3 linked regions of the Homo sapiens genome follow. The protein of the gene in region 1 purifies or fractionates together with the protein of each later gene. This does not show direct contact. Each region holds a gene or a part of one and is shown in the gene's direction. Other genes may lie near its edges.

Region 1 (3,997 bases):
GCTTCTGATTGTGAAAGTGGAAGATTCCTCCTGGGAACAGGAATCTGCCCAGCATGAGGATGGCAGGGATTCCGAAGCCTGCCGCCAGCGCTTCCGGCAATTCTGCTACGGGGATGTGCATGGGCCTCATGAGGCCTTCAGCCAGCTCTGGGAGCTCTGCTGCCGCTGGCTGCGGCCCGAGCTGCGTACCAAGGAGCAGATCCTGGAGCTGCTGGTGCTGGAGCAGTTCCTGACAGTGCTGCCAGGGGAGATCCAGGGCTGGGTGCGTGAGCAGCACCCGGGAAGCGGTGAGGAGGCTGTCGCCTTGGTGGAGGACCTACAGAAGCAGCCAGTGAAAGCCTGGCGACAGGTGAGGGGCCCTTCCACATCCAGGGGCACCTGGATGGTATCTGAGCTCGAGAGAAGTGGGTAACCTGCAGAGATAAGTCTCCCAGAGGCTCACAGGGTAGGGGAGACACAGAGCCCCCAGGAGCAGGCACACAAGCACAGTGTGCCATGGGTGCCTTTCTGAAAGATGCGATCCAAAGTAAATGTGATTTATTTTTTGTGGCTTTGGAAGGCAGCAATAGGGCTGAAGTGCGAATGTTCCAGACAGGAGGTTTTAGCTCCATGCAGGGTCTGCTGATGTTTATTTGCATTTTGCTCTAGGCCTGGCTCTGGGGACACAAGGGTGTGCATAGAGCCAGCTCCAGAGTGGGGCGAGAAGGTGGAGCTGTCCGGGGCCTCTGCTACCTTGTGGGATGTTGGGTCCTTCACATTGGATGCATCTGGGGAGGTTCTAATGAGTGGCTGGGGGATGGGGTTCTGCCTTTGGCAGGAGGGTCCCCAGCTACCCCCTTGCTAAGTGGCTGTGATTCTGGCCTTTCAGGGCTGGTTCTTGCCTCGTGAATGATCGGGGAGCATCCTTGGGCACACAGCATTACCTGGTATCACATTCTCCTCCGGACTTTTCCTGGGGCACCATATTGGTCTCCTTCCCACACCCCAGCATCCTGAGGGTCATGTCCTGTGTCTCCTTCCCAGGGAGTAAACTCTGTCTCCCCCGGTCTGGTCTCGGGCTGATGAGCATGTTGTGGTTCCTGCACAGGATGTGCCCTCGGAGGAGGCGGAACCCGAGGCTGCAGGCCGGGGATCCCAGGCCACGGGGCCTCCCCCGACGGTGGGGGCACGGAGGCGGCCGTCTGTTCCCCAGGAGCAGCACAGCCATAGCGGTGAGTAAGCCTCCGTTCTTGTGGACAGTCGAGTGGCTGGGCAGGGACCTAGCTTTGTCACCGGCGTTGCCCTAAGGGTCACAGGCAGGACAGCTCCCTCTGTGAAGTCCAGGGCGTGTGTGCATGCGCACAGGCTGGGGAGGCCATAGGCGTCGGTGTCAAGCCTGGGCTGGCCTTTCTAAGGCTCCATTCTTCTCCTTCAGCCCAGCCTCCTGCTCTTCTTAAAGAGGGTCGTCCCGGAGAGACGACGGACACCTGCTTTGTCTCTGGGGTCCATGTGAGTCACCAGTCCCTTTGTCTTCTTTAAGGCACTTGGCCCTGTTGAGTTTGTAAAATGGGACTTGCTGTCCCATCAGGCCTCTTTCATCTGACCCATCCTGTCCCCGCCAGTGCTGCTGGGAGGCCTGAGCCGGGTCTTCTCACCCCATTCCAGGGACCTGTGGCATTGGGAGACATCCCATTCTATTTCTCCCGGGAAGAATGGGGCACCCTGGACCCTGCTCAGCGGGATCTCTTCTGGGACATAAAGCGGGAGAACTCCCGGAACACCACCCTGGGTAAGCACCCAGGGCCTTTGGGTCCAGGCTGGCCGCCCCCGATTCTGCTGGAACTTCAGTCTTGTTTCCCACCCCATCCTTAGCTGGTTCCAAAGCAGGCTCTCCCTAGGTCTTGCCAGGAGCCTGAGTAACTCCTTTCTTGGCTGATGATCAGTTTTTGTGCGTTTCCACATGCAGCATGGGACGGCGCCGGCGCTGCCCAGCCCTGCAGTTGCTCTAAGGGCAACTTCTCCTTTGAGTCTCACAACCTAGTGCATGGAAGTATTGTCCCCATTTTACGCATAAGGGACCTGAGACTCAGGTCAGTGGATGCTGAAGGGACACAGCTGGGACTTGGATCAGGCACAGTTGTGAGGCCACCTTGGGCTGCTAGGAGCAGGGGTGCTGACGGGGAACCCCAGCTGCTCACCAGCCTGGGCCCCTGCTCGTCAGAACTGCACTTACCAGGTTCCTCTCCATGCCAGGCCCCTTCTCAGCACCATCAGGGATCATCTTGTTCAGTCACACTCCCAGGAGGATGGGCTGCGACCTCTGTCCAGATCTGTGTTGAGTTTGGAGAACTAGAGCCTGCGTGGTGAAGGGAGCCACACTAGCTAGACCAGTTTGGCTCCTCAGTTTCCGACTGTGACGGTTGGGAAAAATTTTCTTTCTTTTTTTTTTTTTTGAGATGGAGTCTTGCTCTGTCGCCAGGCCGGAATGCAGTGGTGTGATCTCAGCTCACTGAAACTTCCACCTCCCGGGTTCAAGCAATTCTCCTGCCTCAGCCTGAGTAGCTGGGATTACAGGCATGAGCCACCATGCCCGGCTAATTTTTTTGTATTTTTAATAGAGACGAGTTTTCACCATGTTGGTCAGGCTGGTCTCGAACTCCTGACTTCATGATCCGCCTGCCTCAGCCTCCCAAAGTGCTGGGATTACAGGCGTGAGCCACCGCGCCCGGCCCTTGAAAAGTTTCAGAATTACTATAAATCTGTTCTGCTGTGGAGCTTGATATCTGGGGTTCAGAGTGGGACATTGGATCCCAGTGTGGCCTGCAGGGCACAGATGGCTTAGGGGGCTGGCCCATGCAGGCGGGATCAGAGGCTTATTCAGACTGCTGCTCTGCCGAATTTTTTCATCATCCCTGATTTATTTGGGTTTTTGTTTGTTTTTGAGACAAAGTCTCGCTCTTGGAGTGCAATGGCATGATCCCGGCTTACTGCAACCTCCGCTTCATGGGTTCAAGTGATTCTTCTACCTCAGCCTCCTGAGTAGCTGGGATTACAGATGTGCGCCACCATGCCCTGCTGATTTTTGCATTTTTTAATAGAGACGGGGTTTCACCATGTTGGCCAGGCTGGTCTCGAACTCCTAACCTCAGGTGATCAGCTCGCCTCAGCCTCCCAAAATGTTGGGATTACAGGCTTGAGTCACTGCGCCTGGCCAATCATCCCTGTTTTATAGATGAGGAACCTGAGAATTCAGCTGTGTGAACCCAGGGCTTTCTGAACCTGGAGGCCAGGGAGCTTTCCCCAGCCTTGTTTCTTCCTCACCTCAGCTCTGGCCCCAGAACCGCGTGGGACTGAAGAGGTCGCCTCCTTCCCCTTGCAGGTTTTGGGCTCAAAGGCCAAAGTGAGAAGTCCCTGCTGCAGGAGATGGTGCCGGTGGTGCCAGGCCAGACAGGCAGCGACGTGACTGTGTCCTGGAGCCCCGAGGAGGCTGAGGCCTGGGAGAGCGAGAACCGGCCGAGGGCGGCCCTGGGCCCAGTGGTGGGCGCGCGACGGGGGCGGCCACCCACTCGCCGGCGCCAGTTCCGGGACCTGGCAGCCGAGAAGCCGCACAGCTGCGGGCAGTGTGGAAAGCGCTTCCGCTGGGGCTCGGACCTGGCGCGGCACCAGCGCACGCACACGGGCGAGAAGCCACACAAGTGCCCTGAGTGCGACAAGAGCTTCCGCAGCTCCTCGGACCTGGTGCGCCACCAAGGCGTGCACACGGGCGAGAAGCCCTTCTCCTGTTCCGAGTGCGGCAAGAGCTTCAGCCGCAGCGCCTACCTGGCCGACCACCAGCGCATACACACGGGCGAGAAGCCTTTCGGCTGCAGCGACTGCGGCAAGAGCTTCTCGCTGCGCTCCTACCTGCTGGACCATCGGCGTGTGCACACCGGTGAGCGGCCCTTCGGCTGCGGAGAGTGCGACAAGAGCTTCAAGCAGCGCGCGCACCTCATCGCGCATCAGAGCCTGCACGCCAAGA
Region 2 (4,613 bases), on another chromosome or scaffold:
GAGATCATGTGGTACACCCGGCTTTTTCCACTTGAGGCTGTCACATGATCATTTTCTCATATTAAGAATCAACCGTGAACTGCTTTTAAAACACTGCCTCCCACTGCATGCCGTGGATGTTCTTTAACATTTCTGCTGCTGGCTCTTTTCTGCCTTCCTCTTTGGTATTTTGATTTTGGCTTCTCTCAGAAACTCATTTTAATTTTTGTCTCCCTATAGCTGGAACAGCTTTGGGTCTTGGGGTTGTGAACATCCTCCATACCATGAATCCCTCCCTTGTGATCCTCTCCGGAGTCCTGGCCAGTCACTATATCCACATTGTCAAAGACGTCATTCGCCAGCAGGCCTTGTCCTCCGTGCAGGACGTGGATGTGGTGGTTTCGGATTTGGTTGACCCCGCCCTGCTGGGTGCTGCCAGCATGGTTCTGGACTACACAACACGCAGGATCTACTAGACCTCCAGGAACAGACATGGACCTTCTCTCCAGAGCTCCTGAGTGGAATCAAGTTCTTGTCTTTAGGATGACCGTTTCTTAACAATCAAATCTGGTATTGAACTGCAGGTGACTTTGGCAGAGAAATGTTTTCACTTTTGGTCTCCTCTTCCAGAGTCACCTTTCCCCACTCCTATTTTTGTAGATGCTATTCTTTCTGATGTCTTCTTACTAGGGGTCATTTTAGCTCAAACCCTGTAAGTTACAGTCACAATTTTCTGTGCCAAAGCAGCTACAATAATAGAGAGGAAGCCTTCTTAGAACTCTGCTTACTAATGTATTAATACCACTGAGACCTTCAGGCCTTGCCTGGGATATCACTTCATCCTGAAGTTTGCATTAATAATCCTTCCAGGCCGGGCACAGTGGCTCACGCCTGTAATCCCAGCACTTTGGGAGGCCGAGGCGGGCGGATCACGAGGTCAGGAGATCGAGACCGCCCTGGCTAACATGGTGAAACATGGTGAAACCCCGTCTCTACTAAAAATACAAAAAATTAGCTGGGTGTGGTGGCGGGTCCCAGCTACTCGGGAGGCTGAGGCAGGAGAATGGCATGAACCAGGGAGGCGGAGCTGGCAGTGAACTGAGACCGCACCACTGCACTCCAGCCTGGGTGACAGAGCAAGACTCCATCTCAAAAATAATAATAATAAATAATAATAATAATAATAATAATAATAATAATCCTTCCAGCTGGGCGCAGTGGCTCACGCCTGTAATCCCAACATTTTGGGAGGCCGAGATGGGCGGATCACCTGAGGTCAGGAGTTCAAGACCAGCCTGGCCAACATGGTGAAACCCCATCTCTACTAAAATACAAAAATTAGCCGGGCGTGGTGGCATGTGCCTGTAGTCCCAGCTACTCGGGAGGCTGAGGCAGGAGAATTGCTTGAACCCGGGAGGCGGAGGTTGCAGTGAGCCGAGATCATGCCACTGCACTCCACCCTGGGTGACAGAGCGAGACTCCGTCTACACACACACACACACACACACACACATCCTTCCTCCTCTAACCCCAAACTAAGATCACAGAAGGTGATCCAGTCAGAGAACAGAGGGAAATCTTACCAGGAAGGGCTTAAGTACACTTTTTTTTAAAACAGCTTTATTGTTTTTAAAGCCTACAATTTGATAAGCCTTGACATATGTATACCTGTGAAAGCATCACCACAATCAAGACACTGGACATATCTATCACTCCCCCATCTCAGATATCCCCCCTAATCCTGGATACCATTTGTTGAAAGATGTTATTACTCTAGCTGAACTTACAAGAGACTTTAGACCAGGGATCTAAATTACAGTGGCCTTAGTGACCTTGTCCTTATCTTCTTAGGACAGCTGAGAAGCCACTGGGACTTAGAGCCTTTAAAAGGAGATTAACTGTCCCAAAAGGATCTTTGCTACTGACCAGCAGACACTTCTTCCTTCAGTAGCCTTTCATACTGTGTTGAGTAACACCCTAGGGTGTCCATTAAAGTTTTGAGTTTTACCTAGAGCCCAGAGCCATGAATCAGGATTCTGTCTACATGATTCGTGTTTTCATTGGTGTCAAAATACAAAAGCCAAAGTTCTGGCTATGAATTGTTAACTTGGAAGAAATACTAACTGCCACCACTTATTAAGTGCCTACTGTGTGCCAGGCTCTGAACTAGGTGCTTCATATACATTATCCTAAATTATCTCAACATATGAGGTAGGTGTTTTAATTTTTATTTTATAGAACTTGGTGTGTTTGACTGTTAAGCTATGGGGCTAGAGAGAGGGTTTGATCCCAGGTCCCTCTGTGCTTTTGCTGCTGAGCCACACAACCTCTCATTTCAAAAACACTTTCAAAATGCTAACATATTCTAATTCACTCTAGGCCACCAAAAACTTTAATACTAATATCTGATTTGTAAATGACTTAATGTATCCTTGACCCTATCAGCTGAATTTAATGAAATATTCCTCTCTGCTGTGAAATTTTACCAGTATAGTATTTGGTCTAGTGACAGGTGTTCTATTTTTTTGAGACGGGTCTCACTCTGTCACCCAGGCTGGAGTGCAGTGGCTCAATGCAACCTCTGCCCCCCAAGTTCAAGTGATTCTCCTGCCTCAGCCTCTTGAGTAGCTGGGATTACAGGCACATGCACCACGCCCGGCTGATTTTTTTTTGTATTTTTAGTAGACAGGGTTTCACCATGTTGGCCAGGCTGGTCTTGAACTCCTGACCTCAGGTGATCCGCCCGCCTCTGCCTCCCAAAGTGCTGGGATTACAGGTGTAAGCCATCACACCTGGCCCTAGTGACAGGTTTTTATGGGTACTTTTAGATGATCTAAGAAATCATGTGCATATATCTTTCAGATTTCTATTTTGGGAAAATGAAGGTTTCTACAACATATTGTTTCAGTGTTCAAATAAACTGAAGGACTCAACATTACATTTGAACTATATCCTTCCTAGTGGGTTAGTGTGAAAAAGAGTTTGGCTGATTCCTAAAACTCTGCCAGCCCTGCAGTAATCTCCAGGGCCTGGTTATTGTTCAGACATTCCATGGTGATTCCTGGGAAGGAAGCTTGGCTGCTCAGTTTCTGAGTCTGGGGTGAGATAATGTTCTGGGAAGGGACATCTGTTCTTTGGTGTAATCTCTCATGGTGAAATCTGCTCTGTACATCAGACAATTGCATTGCTACCAAGTTTCATACCAAATATTTGAAAGGATGGTATTGAATCTAAAACCAAATATTAGTTTTTATTAAACTCATGGGAAGGCTAATATATTCCAACGTAAATTATTACATATGGTTAAGTAATTGCATGTTAATTTATTTTAATGTAAATATTTTTGTTACTGTTCTGAGCCAAATTCTAAAGAAAAAATAAATACATTTCCTTGTTGAAATCCTGTTGTATTTTGTTTTGTTCGTAACTCATTAGCCAAAAGCATTTTCCTTCCCAGAAGAGATTTAATTGTTGCACTGCTTACGTTTTGAAGGTTATATAACTTCCTTAAGGCCTCTAATATCATTGCTTTCTTAACCAAAAAAAGTCTATTAATAGAAAGCATGGCTGGGCATGGTGCCTCATGCCTGTAATCCCAGCACTTTGGGAGGCTGAGGCAGAAAGATTGCTTGAACCCTAGAGTTCGAGACCAGCCTGGGCAACATGCCAAAACCCCATCTCTACAAAACAATACAAAAAAAATTAGCCAGGCATGGTGCAGTCTCAGCTACTCAGGAGGCTGAGGTGGGAGGATCACCTGAGCCCGGGAAGTGGAGGCTGCAGTAAGTTAGTTATGATCATGCCATTGCACTCTAGCCTGGGCGACACAGTGAGACCCTGTCTCAAAAACAACAAAAACAAAACATTGCTATATATAACATTGAAAATTTGGCATAAAAAAGCAAAGTAGCCCCCAAGAAAGAGGTTTGAAACTAAGTGTTAAGCATTTACTGAGTCCCTAGACCCACTCCCTCTTTTTATGAGGCCCTATGTGGGTCTCATACAGGCATTAGAAACAATCCCAAATTACTATTGCTGTGTAACCTCAAAACTGAAGAGCTTAAAACAACAGTAATTGTTTCACGTCGTGGTTTCTGTGGGTCAGGATTTGGGAAAGGCTCAAACTTGACAGTTGTAGCTCAAGAGTATCCTGCACTTGTAGTTGTCAGCTGGAATAGCACGAGGCTGGCTGGCCAGGCATCTCCCAATGTGTGTGGTTACAGGGTCTCTCAGGTGGCCTCTCTGTGGGCTAGTTTGGGCTTCCTCACCACATGGGTAGCTTCAAAGGTAGAATTTTTTATGAGGCGGCTCAGGGCCACCAGCTAGTTGCTCCAACAAATCAACCATCAGCAGCACTGCCTTTTATGACCTAGCCTTGGAAGTCATCCCAGCATCACTTTTGTCACATTATTCAGTCACCTCTCCATCTAGAGAATGTCACAGATTTTGTTGACATTTAAAATTGCCACCTCCCACCTCAAGAAGCCCAGCTGGTGTGGGAGGCAAGACTGGTCCAGACGATGGCACCAAGACTACCAAAAATAAGCTGCCCCAGGTAGATGGCCATGGGAGTTCAGGGGAAGGGGGGTGGCCTTTGAACTAGTTCTTAAATTGGATTTTGACATTTGGAATGG
Region 3 (4,859 bases), on another chromosome or scaffold:
ATCCCAGCACTTTGGGAGGCCAAGGTGGGTAGATCTCCTGAGGTCGGGAGTTTGAGACTAGCCTGGCCAACATGGCGAAACCCCGTCTCTACTAAAAATACAAAAATTAGCCAGAGATGGTGGCGCACGTCTGTAATCCAAGATACTGAGGAGGCTAAGGCAGGAGAATCACTTAAACCTGGGAGGTGGAGGTTGCAGTGAGCCGAGATCACACCACTGCACTCCAGCCTGGGCAACAGAGCGAGACTCCATCTCAAAAAAAAAAAAAAGAAAGAAAGAAAAGAAAAATGGAGAGGCACAGGTGATATGACCCCTGTGGCCCAACACCTACAAAGGTCTGGGGGTTGTCCAGGGAGCCTGCGATGGCTGCTTCATGAGTGCTGCCATGTGAGGCCTCACTCAAGGCTTTTGTAGGAATCGGGCAGCTAGATTTTCCCCAGACGCAGTAACCTCATGAAAAAGAAACGATGCCTGCCTGCCATCCAGTTCATAAGTGGGACAAGAGATGGAAGAAAGGAGGGGGGGCAGGAGGGAAGGGCCTTCCCCACAGGAGGCATCGGAGCTTGGGGTCCCTCTCTATCCCCTTCCGTCACTCGCTTCCCTGCAGCCGGCTGTGACCACAAGGTGACATCCACCAGTGGTACCATCACCAGCCCCAACTGGCCTGACAAGTATCCCAGCAAGAAGGAGTGCACGTGGGCCATCTCCAGCACCCCCGGGCACCGGGTCAAGCTGGTAAGGGGTCCCCTCCCCACTCCTTATGCGGTGTGGCTGCCCCCGGTCAGAGGCACTGCCCAGAGCCACACAGGCTGCAGGCTGAGCCCAGAGGTCTGCCATCCCCAGGAGACCCCAAGTCTGGCCTGGACAGAGGCCCCTTTCCCAGTATAAATTAGGGGCGTCCCTGCCTTCGCCCTATTCCTGGGCCCTCCTTCACTGTCATCCCCAGCTGTGGCTGCTCCCATGGGTATCTGTGAGGCCTAGGTTTGGGGCCCTCATCCTTGCCCCACCTGCCTTCCAGCCAAATTTTTAATCTGTGCTCCTTCCTCATCCCCCTAGACCTTCATGGAGATGGACATCGAGTCCCAGCCTGAGTGTGCCTACGACCACCTAGAGGTGTTCGACGGGCGAGACGCCAAGGCCCCCGTCCTCGGCCGCTTCTGTGGGAGCAAGAAGCCCGAGCCCGTCCTGGCCACAGGCAGCCGCATGTTCCTGCGCTTCTACTCAGATAACTCGGTCCAGCGAAAGGGCTTCCAGGCCTCCCACGCCACAGGTACTGTCCCCGGTTGTGGGAGTGTTCACTGAGCCTGGTCTCCAAGACTGGGGTAGAGTCGGGGGTTTCAATGCGGGTATGAAGGTACAGAGGGACTGAGCCCTGCGACCCAGGGCCAGGGTTGTGGGTGATGCAAACATTGTGTCCTGAGAACCAGGCCTGGGGGGCAGGGATAGGAGGGTGTGGTTAGGGGTTAGGATGGCAGTGATGACGATGGACAGGAGAGGTGAGGGAACTCAGGGACAGAGAGGAAAGCCCCCAGAGGTCCCCCTGAGCGTACGCGGGCCACCGCAGCAGCCCAGCCACACACCAACCCTGAAATATACTCTATTCATTCTCTGATATTTATTTTTTTATTTTTATTTTTATTTATTTTTTATTTTTTGAGATGGAGTCTTGCTCTGTCGCCCAGGCTGGAGTGCAGTGGTTCGATCTTGGTTCACTGCAACCTCCACTTCCTGGGTTCAAGCGATTCCCCTGCCTCAGCCTCCCGTGTAGCTGGGATTACAGGAGCCTGCCACCATGCCCAGCTAATTTTTGTATTTTTAGTAGAGACAGGGTTTCGCCATGTTGGCCAGGCCAGTCTCAAACTCCTGACCTCAGGTGATCCGCCCGCCTTGGCCTCCCAAAGTGCTGAGATTACAGGCGTGAGCCACCGTGCCCAGCCCATTCTCCTGATACTTATTGACATGTAACATGGATGAGGCGGCATCCTAAATGCAGGTCCCAGAAACAGACCAAGCAAAGATCCCAGCCCTTGAGGGGCTTGCTCGGCTTTCACTTGCTTGTTTATTTAGCAGCCATGAACTGAGCTCCGCTCTGCGAGAGGACTAAGGGGCACGTGGCCTGAATCAGGCATGAGCCCTTCACTCCTGCCCCCCACCCCATACTAGGAACTCGCAGTCCAGGAGAGAGACAAGGCAGGCACCGCCCGTGACAGCATGAGCCCAAGCGGGAGCCAGGCAGGAAGAAAGGCACCCCGGCCTAACTGGGCATGTGTTGGTAGAGGCATTCGAGGCAGGGGGAGGTGCCCAGGCAGAGACACAACCCCAGCCCAGCCCAGAGTGTGCCCAGGTGACAGCAGGTCATTTACTTTGGCCGAAGCAATGGGTGTGTGAGGACAGCAGGTTGTGGGAATGATGTGGCTGCAGAGAAAGGCTGGAGTCCAGGGGGATGCCTTGAGTGCCAGACCAAGGATGCCACGAGGGAGCTTTGCAGTCTCCTCCTGGGTCCTAAGCCACCTGTCAGGGCATCCCCAGAGCTGATGGTCCACAGCCTCCCCTCTTCCCCTTCAACTCAGTCCCTGACCCAGCCCCGTCCTTCCCTCTCCCCACCTCCTCTAGCGAGACCTGAGTGCCAGGTGCACAAAAGCCAGAGGGCCTGGGGAGGAGGGTGGCCCCATGCACTGTCCTCTGCCCTTCCCAGCACAGGGTCACAAACCGGAGGCCCGGAACTCCATCTGGCCCTCAGACCTGCTATGTTTGGCCCACACTGTGTTTTTTTTAAAAATGTGAGCCAACACTTAAAAGTTAGGAGTTTTCACATAAAACCCAGATGTACGGCTTCTCTCTTGAAAATGGAAGCTGTGGCGACACTGGGCCCACATTCTTCCATGACAGCCATCAGCTGGAGAAAATGAGCAATGCCCTCTTTAGACAAAGTGTGTGGTGCCTCGTGCCACCGCTCCATGCTGTCTTCCTCTCGGTGAGCCTCACTGCCTGTTCCCCTCAGCCTAGGGCCAAGGTCCCTCTATTTAGAGATGGGGCAGCACAGCAATGTTCTGGGCCAGGCCCCCACCCACCCATCACTGGCCTCGTGGCCTTCACCCAGGCCTCCATCCTGCCGTGAGGGCACGCCATGGCATAGTGTGCCATGGGGCCTGGCACCTGCGGTGCTCAGGGCTGGTTGGCCCCTCTTGTCCCCTACAGAGTGCGGGGGCCAGGTACGGGCAGACGTGAAGACCAAGGACCTTTACTCCCACGCCCAGTTTGGCGACAACAACTACCCTGGGGGTGTGGACTGTGAGTGGGTCATTGTGGCCGAGGAAGGCTACGGCGTGGAGCTCGTGTTCCAGACCTTTGAGGTGGAGGAGGAGACCGACTGCGGCTATGACTACATGGAGCTCTTCGACGGCTACGACAGCACAGCCCCCAGGCTGGGGCGCTACTGTGGCTCAGGGGTGAGGCCCCCACCCCTCGCCCTCCTGGCCCCATGCCCCACGCCCCACACTGTCCTCCACCCTTCTCAGCCCAGTCTCCAAGACCTAGCGCCCACACAGGCCCCGGAAGTTGAGTGCAGCACGCGTGTGGCCCTGTGTGGGAGCCCAGAAGCCCAGCCTTGTTGGGGCTACTCAGAGACACTGCCCCATCCCCGACGTAGGAAACCAAGTCCTTTCTGGGCAACCTAGAAGTTCCTGCGGCCTCTGACCCAGGCCTGCCTCAGAACCAGTTGGCCACGGCCTGGAGCGGATGGAGCTTCCTCTGTCCCTCCTTTCCTTACCCCTCCCCCAAGGCAGCCCACCAGGGCCTGGAATGGGGGGCAGAGGTTGGCACCAGAGCCGGGGACAGGGCGCCTGAGCGGAGTGGCCCTCACCAGTCCTTTTGCCGGAGGCATAAACACTCTTGTCATTTCCTCTACCAGTTTCTCCTCCTGATGAAAGGCCAGCTTGTCCCAAAGCTCTTGCTGCTGCTGTCCCAGTGGCCCCTGGGCACTGCTTCTTGGTCCATAAAATGGCACGTTAAGAGTCAATGAGCAAAAGTAGGCTTGATGGGCTTTTCCCTAAGGACATGGGCTAGCCTCGTGGGGAGGATTTATTTTCCTCCCTGTAAGAGCTTGCAGCTGCCTCTTCTTCTTTTTTTTTTTTTTTTTTTGTCCTTTCCTGAGGGCTTCAAAGAGACAGACTGTCTTCCTACCCATCTCTCTCTCTTTCCCTCTCTCTCTCTCTCTCTCTCTCACACACATACACACACACTGGCACACCCACTTGCATGCACTTTCAAATACACTGGCCCTCCTGTCACCTCCCTGTCCCCTTGCCTATCTCATGGCTGTATCCCAGGCAGCCTGGGTGCCCCAGGAAGGGTTAAAGCTCCTGGAAGCTGCAGCAGCTGCTGGACCCAGCATTGGCTGAACCTCCCCCAGGAGCAGAGCTTCAGCCCTCGTGTGGCTGGCAGGGGCTGGGACAAGGTGGAGCCTGAAGCAGCTTGGCTGCCCTGGTGTCCCCTGGCTGCCAGGCTAGTGTCCCCTCCCCTCTTTGCTCTTTCTTCTGAATCACACACCAAATCGGATGTCCCCAGGTGTCTTCTTCCAGAGACCTCCCCCAGGCTGAGTTGACCGGAAGGAACTTGGGGAAGGATCAGGGCCTCCTGGCACAACTACTCGGAATGTCCTCAAGGTTCTCAGAAATGATTTCTTCTGTGCCTGGAAGGCCAGGGCGTTGACGTCCGATGCTCTGAGGGCTGACCTCACTCAGTAGGCTTGCAGGAGGCACCTAAGAAGGGCTCGGGAGCAGACCTTGGCCAGGTGCCAGAGGAGAGGCGGGGCAAGGGGTAGGGATGGCAGAGTCCAGGCCTGGGGGGCACTGTGCTTC

What was found. Proteins that work in one complex are often made in the same cells at the same time.
Region 2: the proteins of ZNF213 (region 1) and GNE purify together in Homo sapiens (affinity purification with mass spectrometry; one large-scale study listed by BioGRID and IntAct). This does not show direct contact.
Region 3: the proteins of ZNF213 (region 1) and BMP1 purify together in Homo sapiens (affinity purification with mass spectrometry; one large-scale study listed by BioGRID and IntAct). This does not show direct contact.

What each region holds. Positions count from the first base shown.
Region 1 is NC_000016.10:3,137,331-3,141,327, forward strand, and holds part of ZNF213 (zinc finger protein 213), read left to right. Parts: coding exon 1-349; intron 350-1,023; exon of another isoform or gene 1,024-1,087; coding exon 1,088-1,211; intron 1,212-1,414; coding exon 1,415-1,488; intron 1,489-1,644; coding exon 1,645-1,768; intron 1,769-3,305; coding exon of another isoform or gene 3,306-3,358; coding exon 3,359-3,997. UniProt on the Homo sapiens protein: May be involved in transcriptional regulation.
Region 2 is NC_000009.12:36,213,207-36,217,819, reverse strand, and holds the end of GNE (bifunctional UDP-N-acetylglucosamine 2-epimerase/N-acetylmannosamine kinase), read left to right. Parts: intron 1-219; coding exon 220-455; 3' UTR 456-3,379; downstream 3,380-4,613. UniProt on the Homo sapiens protein: Bifunctional enzyme that possesses both UDP-N-acetylglucosamine 2-epimerase and N-acetylmannosamine kinase activities, and serves as the initiator of the biosynthetic pathway leading to the production of N-acetylneuraminic acid (NeuAc), a critical precursor in the synthesis of sialic acids.
Region 3 is NC_000008.11:22,206,247-22,211,105, forward strand, and holds part of BMP1 (bone morphogenetic protein 1 isoform 3 precursor), read left to right. Parts: intron 1-607; coding exon 608-735; intron 736-1,056; coding exon 1,057-1,270; intron 1,271-3,198; coding exon 3,199-3,449; intron 3,450-4,859. UniProt on the Homo sapiens protein: Metalloprotease that plays key roles in regulating the formation of the extracellular matrix (ECM) via processing of various precursor proteins into mature functional enzymes or structural proteins.